2 linked regions of the Homo sapiens genome follow. The protein of the gene in region 1 purifies or fractionates together with the protein of each later gene. This does not show direct contact. Each region holds a gene or a part of one and is shown in the gene's direction. Other genes may lie near its edges. The genes, in order: POLR2J3 and RPAP2.

The links.
Region 2: the proteins of POLR2J3 (region 1) and RPAP2 purify together in Homo sapiens (affinity purification with mass spectrometry, with the first as the bait; one large-scale study listed by BioGRID). This does not show direct contact.

The regions. Positions count from the first base shown.
Region 1 is NC_000007.14:102,569,769-102,574,365, reverse strand, and holds the start of POLR2J3 (DNA-directed RNA polymerase II subunit RPB11-b2), read left to right. Parts: upstream 1-1,782; 5' UTR 1,783-1,844; coding exon 1,845-1,894; intron 1,895-4,441; coding exon 4,442-4,531; intron 4,532-4,597. Other genes in the region: uncharacterized protein LOC124901712, read left to right, coding at 442-559. UniProt on the Homo sapiens protein: DNA-dependent RNA polymerase catalyzes the transcription of DNA into RNA using the four ribonucleoside triphosphates as substrates. Component of RNA polymerase II which synthesizes mRNA precursors and many functional non-coding RNAs.
Region 2 is NC_000001.11:92,322,823-92,326,638, forward strand, and holds part of RPAP2 (putative RNA polymerase II subunit B1 CTD phosphatase RPAP2), read left to right. Parts: intron 1-622; coding exon 623-1,553; intron 1,554-3,816.

The DNA.
Region 1 (4,597 bases):
CTGGGCTGGGGGGACCACTACCACCAAGACGCAGAGACCAGTAGTGGCCCTGAATGCCAGGCTGCGCTGATATTTATTGGATACAAGACAAAGGGGCAGGATAAGGAGAGTGAGCCATCTCCAATGATAGGTAAGGCCACATGGGTCACGTGTCCACTGGACAGGGGCCCTTCCCTGCCTGGCAGCCGAGGCAGAGAGAGAGAGGAGAAAGAGAGAGAGACAGCTTACACCATTATTTCTGCTTATCAGAGACTTTTAGTACTTTCACTAATTTGCTACTGCTATCTAGAAGGCAGAGCCAGGTGTACAGGATGGAACATGAAGGTGGACTAGGAGCGTGACCACTGAAGCACAGCATCACAGGGAGACGGTTATGCCTCCGGGTAACTGTGGGCGGGCCTGTGGAGGAGTAGAGTCTTCTCTAAACTCCCCCGGGGAAAGGGAGACTCCCTTTCCCGGTCTGCTAAGTAGCGGGTGTTTTTCCTTGACACTAACGCTACAGCTAGACCACGGTGGGCTTGGCAACAGGTGTCTTCCCAGATGCTGGCGTTACCGCTAGACCAAGGAGCCCTCTGGTGGCCCTGTCCGGGCATAACAGAAAGCTTGCACTCTTGTCTTCTGGTCACTCCTCACTGTCCCCTCAGCTCCCATCTCTGTATGGCCTGGTTTTTCCTAGGTTATGATTGTAGAGCGAGGATTATTATAATATTGGAATAAAGAATAATTACTACAAACTAATGATTAATGATTCATATATAATCATATCTCAGATCTATATCTAGTATAACTATTCTTATTTTATATATTTTATTATACTGGAACAGCTCGTGCCCTCGGTCTCTTGCCTCGGCACCTGGGTGGCTTGCTGCCCACATCCACCAAGTGCACTTTGGGAGGCTGAGGCTGGAGGACTGCTGGAGGCCAGGAGTTCAATACCAGCCTGGGCAACATAGGGAGACCCCCCCCCCCACCATCTCCAAAAATAAAAAAAAAAATAGCTAAGTGTGATGGCACATGCCTGCAGTCCTAACTATCGGGAGGCTGAGGCAGGAGGATCTCTGGAGCCCAGGAGTTGGAGGCTGCATGATGGCGCCACTGTACTTCAGCCTGGGCGACAGAGGGAGACGCTGTCTCTAAATAATAATAATAATATATAAAAAGATATACGTAACCCTACGGGCTCCCCTCTCACTGCTGTATACACCTGCCTCCTTCTGCATCCCTCACCCAATTGTCCCTCCCGGCTAACAAGCCAGCTGCACCCCCCAGGCAGAGGTCCTGCAGCAGTCGGTATAGGCAGCCTGGGCAGGGGGCTTGTCATAGATCTGCCTCTGGCCACGAGATCTTCTGCTCCCCCTACGGCTGCTAGCCGCAGCTGTCCACTACCCCTTAGCTTTATTCTCTCTATTCAGGGGCCTCCTGCTGCGCACTCCAAGGGGGTGCACGTTTCCAAAGAGAGATCAAGGGACATGGGGAAAGGAGAAAGGTACAGCTTGAGGTTCCCGCTCAGCCAGGACTAGGAGGCCTCTGTAGGGGCAGAACAGCCCTGCCGGCGCTCTGAGCATGCGCCGAAAAGCGCCCACGGGGAAAGCCATGCCGGGGTGCGGGGTGGGGGGGTGGGGGGGGGGGGGGGCGGTGCGCTCGCCACTGACGCATGCGCAGAGACACTGGTCTCGCTCGGGGTTTTCTCGCGCCTGCGCAAGATCCTCCAGCCCAACAGGGGGCGATGAGCCGATCCTTGCGCGGGTTTGCCCCGCCGGAGTAATCCGGAAGAGGCCTCTTATTAGGGCTCTGGTGGCGGCGGTGGCGGACACTTGGGGTCTGGACGCAACGGCGGCGGGAGCATGAACGCCCCTCCAGCCTTCGAGTCGTTCTTGCTCTTCGAGGGCGAGAAGTAAGTGACGCCGGCTGCGGAGGGCCGAGGTGCGCGGGCCTGCGGCTGTCGCATTCTGGGGTGTCTCCTGCCCATCTCTTGCCCCGGGAGGGAAACAGCTTTTGCTTGATCGTCTGCTCGGCCTGTGTCAGCCAAATTTAAGGCCGTTCCGCGAGGCAGTCGCGAGTGTGTTCATTTTGCAGATGAGGACACTGAGGCTTGGAGGCGAGCAAGTTGCCCCGGACACAGGAAGTGGCGGCGCTTGTATTCGAACCCAGAGTGTCTGGTTCTCCATAGCCCTTTTCCTCTGGGATCTGGCAGCTTCCTCTTTTTGTCTCTCGCCCGCCACCTCCATCCTTCATCCCCTCCGATCTGTCAGCGGCCTGCGTAAAAGCCGCAGTGGCTCCTCGCTGCCTGCGGGTTGAAGGAGTCCAGGGGAGAGAGCTTGGGCTCACTCTGTATCTGTGGGCGAGTGGCTTGATCTGTCGGAGGCCCTGTTTCCTCATCTGGAAAATGAGTTTATTACTGTACTTAAACGTGGGATTCAGGCCGGGTGCGGTGGCTGACACCTGTAATCCCAGCACTTTGGGAGCCCGAGGCGGGCGGATCACCTGAGGTCGGGAGTTCAAGACCAGCCTGACCAACATGGAGAAACCCTGTCTCTACTAAAAATACAAAATTAGCCGGGCGTGGTGGCAGATGCCTGTAATCCCAGCTACTCAGAAGGCTGAGGCAGGAGAATCACTTGAACCTGGGAAGTGGAGGTTGAGGTGAGCGGAGATCACGCCATTGCACTCCAGCCTGAGCAACAAGAGCGAAACTCCGTTTCAAAAAACAAAAAAAGGGATCTGGCCAGGTGCGCTGGTTCACGCTTTTAATCCCGGCACTTTGGGAGGCTCAGGTGGGAGGATTGCTTGAGCTGAGCACAGGAGTTCCAGGCTGCAGTGAGCTTTGATCGCATCACTGCACTCCAGCCTGGGCGACTGAGCGCAATCCTGTCTCAAAATAAAAAGAATTGGATGAGGTAATTTGTGTAAAACTCTTGGTCCAAAGCTCAGCCCCTGGAAAACCTCATAACCATTGGCTCTTATTGTTCCCAGGTTGGCGTGCAGAGGTCTTGGTCTGGCCCTTGCCAGCCACTTCGGCCTCCTTTAGAGCAGACTCTCAACTGGGGACCATTTGGCCCCACAAGGGACATGTGGCAATAACTGAGAACATTATTGGTTGTCAAAGGGGGTTATGACTGGAATCTACTGGGTAGAGGTCAGGGATGCTGCTGATGTCCTACAATGTCCACAAGACAGCACCCCACAGGAAAGAATGATGCACCCTAAAATGTGTGTGGTGTCAGCCTGGAGAAACCACCTTAGAAAAAAGGATATTCAACTTGATACCTCTCACCTGTGTGAGATTTTACTGTCAGCATAGTTGCCCTCAAATTGAGTGTGCATTAGAATCACCTGAAGGGCTTCTTAAACCATAGATCCCTGCGCCCCACCTCCAGAGTTCTGGGTCCAGTAAGTGGGAGGTGGGAGACTCTTAACAAGTTCCCAGGGGATTCTGATGCTGCTTATCTGGGAACTGCACTCTGAAAACCCCTTGTCTTGGAAAATCCAATGGAAGTTTCCTGTCTTTGTCCATCTAAGCGTTCACTAAAATCATAGTAAATGCCAGAGCATGACTTGTTTTGGGGAATGGATGGAAGGACTGCACACTCCAGCCAGGGGGATGGTTGCTTTCGGAACTCACAGGGTCAGGACCAGCCTCACCGTGTAACTTCAGGGCCTCTCTTCTTCACCTTTTGGTTGCTTCATTATGTTGGCGTAAGAAAAAAGGAACAGGCCAGGCATGATGACGTGCGCCTGTGGTCCCAGCTACTCAGGAGGCTAAGGCGGGAGGATCACTTTAGCCGAGGAGTTGGAGGCTGCAGTGAGCTATGATCACACCACTGCACTCCAGCCTGGGCAGCAGGAGAGATCATTTGAGGCGAGGAGTTCAAGACCAGCGAGGACAACAAGGCAAAACCCCATCTCTACCGGAAAAAAAAAAGGAGGAATTCAGAAAAGGCCAAGGTTCCATAGACCTGGGGTAGCAGGAAGTAGGGGACCGGGTTGGCGAGGCCTTTATGGGATGAAGAGATTGAGAAAGGCCTTCAGGAAGAGGCAGAGCTTATTTTTCCTTTTTATTTTTATATTTTTGATACAGAGTTCCACTCTGTTGCCCAGGCTGGAGTGCAGTGGCATGATCTCGGCTCACTGCAACTCCACCTCCCAGGTTCAGGTGATTCTCCTGCCTCAGTCTCCCAAGTAGCTAGGACTACAGGCATGGATCACCACACTCAGCTAATTTTTTTTTTTTCTTTGTATTTTTAGTACAGACAGGGTTTTGCCATGTTGGGCAGGCTGGTCTTGAACTTCTGACCTCAGGTCATCCATCCACCTCAGCCTCCCAAAGTGTTGGGATTACAGACACGAGCCACCACACCTGGCCGGGAGGAGACAGGGTTTAGACTCAGGGTGGGAGGAGGGGAGCCCCTGCTCCTCATCTGTGGCCTCTGTGTCTTCCTAGGATCACCATTAACAAGGACACCAAGGTACCCAATGCCTGTTTATTCACCATCAACAAAGAAGACCACACACTGGGAAACATCATTAAATCGTAAGTTTCCCGTCACAGGCTCTCAGGGGCTATGTTTAATGGGCCCCTCTGGGCAAAGCACAAGTT
Region 2 (3,816 bases), on another chromosome or scaffold:
GCTGAGTTCACACCATTGCACTCCAGCCTGGGCAACACAGACTTTGTCTTAAAAATATATATTTATTTTTATATTATTTTTCATATTATATATTTTTTAAACTACATATATACTTTATATATTATATATAATATACATTATATATGTACAAGTATATATTATATATGTAAATATGTGTACATATAAATATATACTTTATATTTTTATATATTTATATATCTTTATATTTATATATATACTTTATATATATATTTATATATATATATATATTTGCAACAACAGGCAAATCCAAATAGTGCAGTAGGATAGCATTATCAAGTTTTTTAAAAAGTTTTGCTGTACTCCTGTAACAATTTTAAAATAATTGGGGGAAAAAGATGAAGGAAGAATACAGAAGGAGAACTATATCAAAAAATATATTATTAACAGATGTACTGAAATTATAGGCTTCTTCTGAAATTTATATATCAGAACCTAGAAATAAGGTTTTGTCTGGGGAATAAAAATTTCTACCTTGAAAGTTACAATGTATAAATACTATGGGGTACTTTACTTTTCTATTGTTTTCGGGTTTTATTTGCTATTTTTTATTTAGTTATTTTATTTCTCTTTCATTCTACAGTGGCCATTCTGGAGAAGAAGTACAGTTATGCAGTAAAGCCATTAAAACATCAGATATCGACAATCCTAGCCACTTTGAAAAGCAATATGAATCTAGTTCTTCTAGCACTCACAGTGATAGTAGCAGTGACAATGAGCAAGACTTTGTTTCCTCCATTCTACCAGGAAACAGACCAAATTCAACAAATATTAGACCACAGCTGCACCAAAAAAGCATAATGAAAAAGAAAGCTGGTCACAAAGCTAACTCCAAACACAAAGACAAAGAACAGACAGTAGTAGATGTCACTGAGCAGTTAGGCGATTGCAAATTAGATAGTCAGGAGAAAGATGCTACATGTGAACTTCCTTTACAGAAAGTAAATACTCAGAGTTCTTCAAATAGCACTTTGCCTGAAAGATTAAAAGCGTCAGAAAATTCTGAAAGTGAATACAGTAGGTCAGAAATAACTCTAGTAGGCATAAGTAAGAAAAGTGCAGAGCATTTTAAGAGAAAATTTGCCAAATCAAACCAAGTGTCTAGGTCAGTGTCTAGTTCAGTGCAGGTGTGTCCTGAAGTTGGAAAGAGAAACTTACTTAAAGTTTTGAAGGAGACTTTGATTGAGTGGAAGACAGAAGAAACATTGAGGTTTTTGTATGGCCAGAATTATGCTTCTGTGTGTCTGAAACCCGAAGCCTCTCTGGTTAAAGAAGAACTTGATGAAGATGACATAATCTCAGATCCAGATAGTCATTTCCCTGCCTGGAGGGAATCTCAGAACAGCTTGGATGAGTCTTTACCTTTTAGGGGCTCAGGTACAGCCATTAAACCACTGCCAAGTTACGAGAATTTGAAAAAAGAAACTGAAAAGTTAAATCTGAGGATCAGGGAGTTTTACAGAGGACGGTATGTTTTGGGTGAAGAAACCACCAAATCACAAGACTCAGAAGAGGTATGTCTTACAGACATTGAGTTTTTCCAGATCGTTAACATTTGGAAAACTCACCACAGCAAATCTTGGAGCAGGAAGGATATTGAAGAGTTAATTGTTAAATTTTCAAATAGTTTCTTTAGTCATTCTGCCTTTTGGTTTACAGTGCCATCTCCACTGTTGGCATTACTATTTTACAAATAAGTTGACGTTTACCCCTAGCAAATTTTCATCAGTGTGCAATATTTTTTTCTAATGTAAAAATAGCCTAAAATGGTGGGACAAAGTTTTCCCTAATTCTTCATACAATAAATGAAGCCTCTGAAGAGGCTTGCTTTTTCTTCTTCGGTATTCTTTCAGATTTTTACATGGGGTCTGTGTGTGTGTGTTTAATGGAAGTATATGCCATGGAATAGACTTGGTAGTTACATTGGAAAATATTTAGCAAGCATGTCCATTGAAAACATTACAGATCAAAATAGTTTGTAAAAGAGACTTATTGGGAAATAATGGACAAAGAGAATGGAAAGCACATTCAGATAGACCTAGATTTGAACATCTGTTGTGTCATTTACTAGCTGTATGAAAAATTAGTTTCTTGGTCTGTTTGCTCATCTGTAAATGGAACTATTAATAGCTTCTCTTGCTCAATTGTTATTTGTTTTAAAGATAATGTGTATAAAGCATTTATCACAGTACATGACATATAATTGGTACTCAGTAAATAGTACCCATATGTAGAGATTGAAAATGTGCCACTGAGATTTAGAGAGCATCTTTTAGTATTTCTACTACCCATCTTTGATTGATGTATACTCCCTGGAAAATGAAGTCATTTAACATGAAGAGGAATGGGTAATAACCTTGTTTTTACCACAAAACTTTGTTCTCAAATATTCCTAAGTAAATGTGGCTCTAAATTTAAAAGCACATTGGAGATTTGGAAAGAGGGTAGAAGTAGAAATGTAGTAAAAAATTTAGAAATATATTTCTATAGAGTGTTGCTTGGCCCAGCACCCTACTTCAAATCATTTCAAGTATCTTATTAGACATCATCCAAAACTTATATTAAGCTAGGAGAAACATTGATCTCTGTCACTGAGCTGCATAAACCTACCATAGAACATCACTTATTTTATCATTTTGTCCTTTTTAGCCTTAAAAAGGAAAAAATAATCCCTGAAATTTGACTTTTAAAAATTTATAACATTTTCCAAAAATGTTACATAACATGTTAAAACATTTCCATTGAAGTACAACACAAATAGTAATTATATGATTTCTTGAGTATTCACATATGAATGTCCTGATGTAATCACTACCCAAGCCAAGAAATAGGTCATTACAAGTAAACTAGAAGCCCCATATATATCCCCTCCTAATCAGCACCTCTTTCCAAAATTAATATTATATTAGCACAGATTAGTTCTGTCATTTTTTTTCCAGTATATATTCTTGGTGTCCAGTTTATTTCATGCAATATTATACTTTTGAGTCATTTGTGTTGTTGCATATAGCTGTAGTTCATTCTTTTATTGCTGTATAGTATTCCATTATATAAATATACCATTTATTTATGCTAATGGACATTTAGACTATTTCCAATTTGGGGCTATTATGAACAATATTCTTAGGAACTTTCTCGTATTTATCTCTCTGCTAATATGCGTATGTATTTCTGAAGTATCTAGGACTGGGAATGGTGGGTTATCGTATATGCATATATGCAACTATACTAGATAATGCCAAACAGTTTTCCAAAGTGGTTGTACCGGTTTACAGTTCCACTACTACTATATGGGAGTTTCCTTGATTCCATGTCCTCCCTGGTACTTGATATAGTTAGTTTTAGCCATTCTGGTAGTATTGGTTTATGATTATAATACATTACTGTGATGATGAATAAATTCAGCACTATTTTATTTGCTTATTGACCACTTGGATAATCTCTTAGGTCAGGTCTGCAGATCTCTCAGCCATGGATACCAGCACCTGCTCTGGTGGAGATGGCAGGGGGGTGAAATGGATTCTGTGAGGATCCTTGCTTTTGGTTGTTTAATGTACTATTTTTGTGCTGGTTAGCCTCCTGCCAGAAGGTGGCACTTTCAAGAGAGCATCAGTTGTGGTAGTATAGGGAGGATCAGGCTGTGGGTAGGGCCGTAGAACTCCCAAGAATATATGCCCTTTGTCTTCAGCTACCGGAGTGGGTAGGGAAGGACCGTCATGGGGGCAGGGCTATGTGCGTCTGAACTCAAGACTCCTTGGGCAGGGCTTGCTGTGGCTG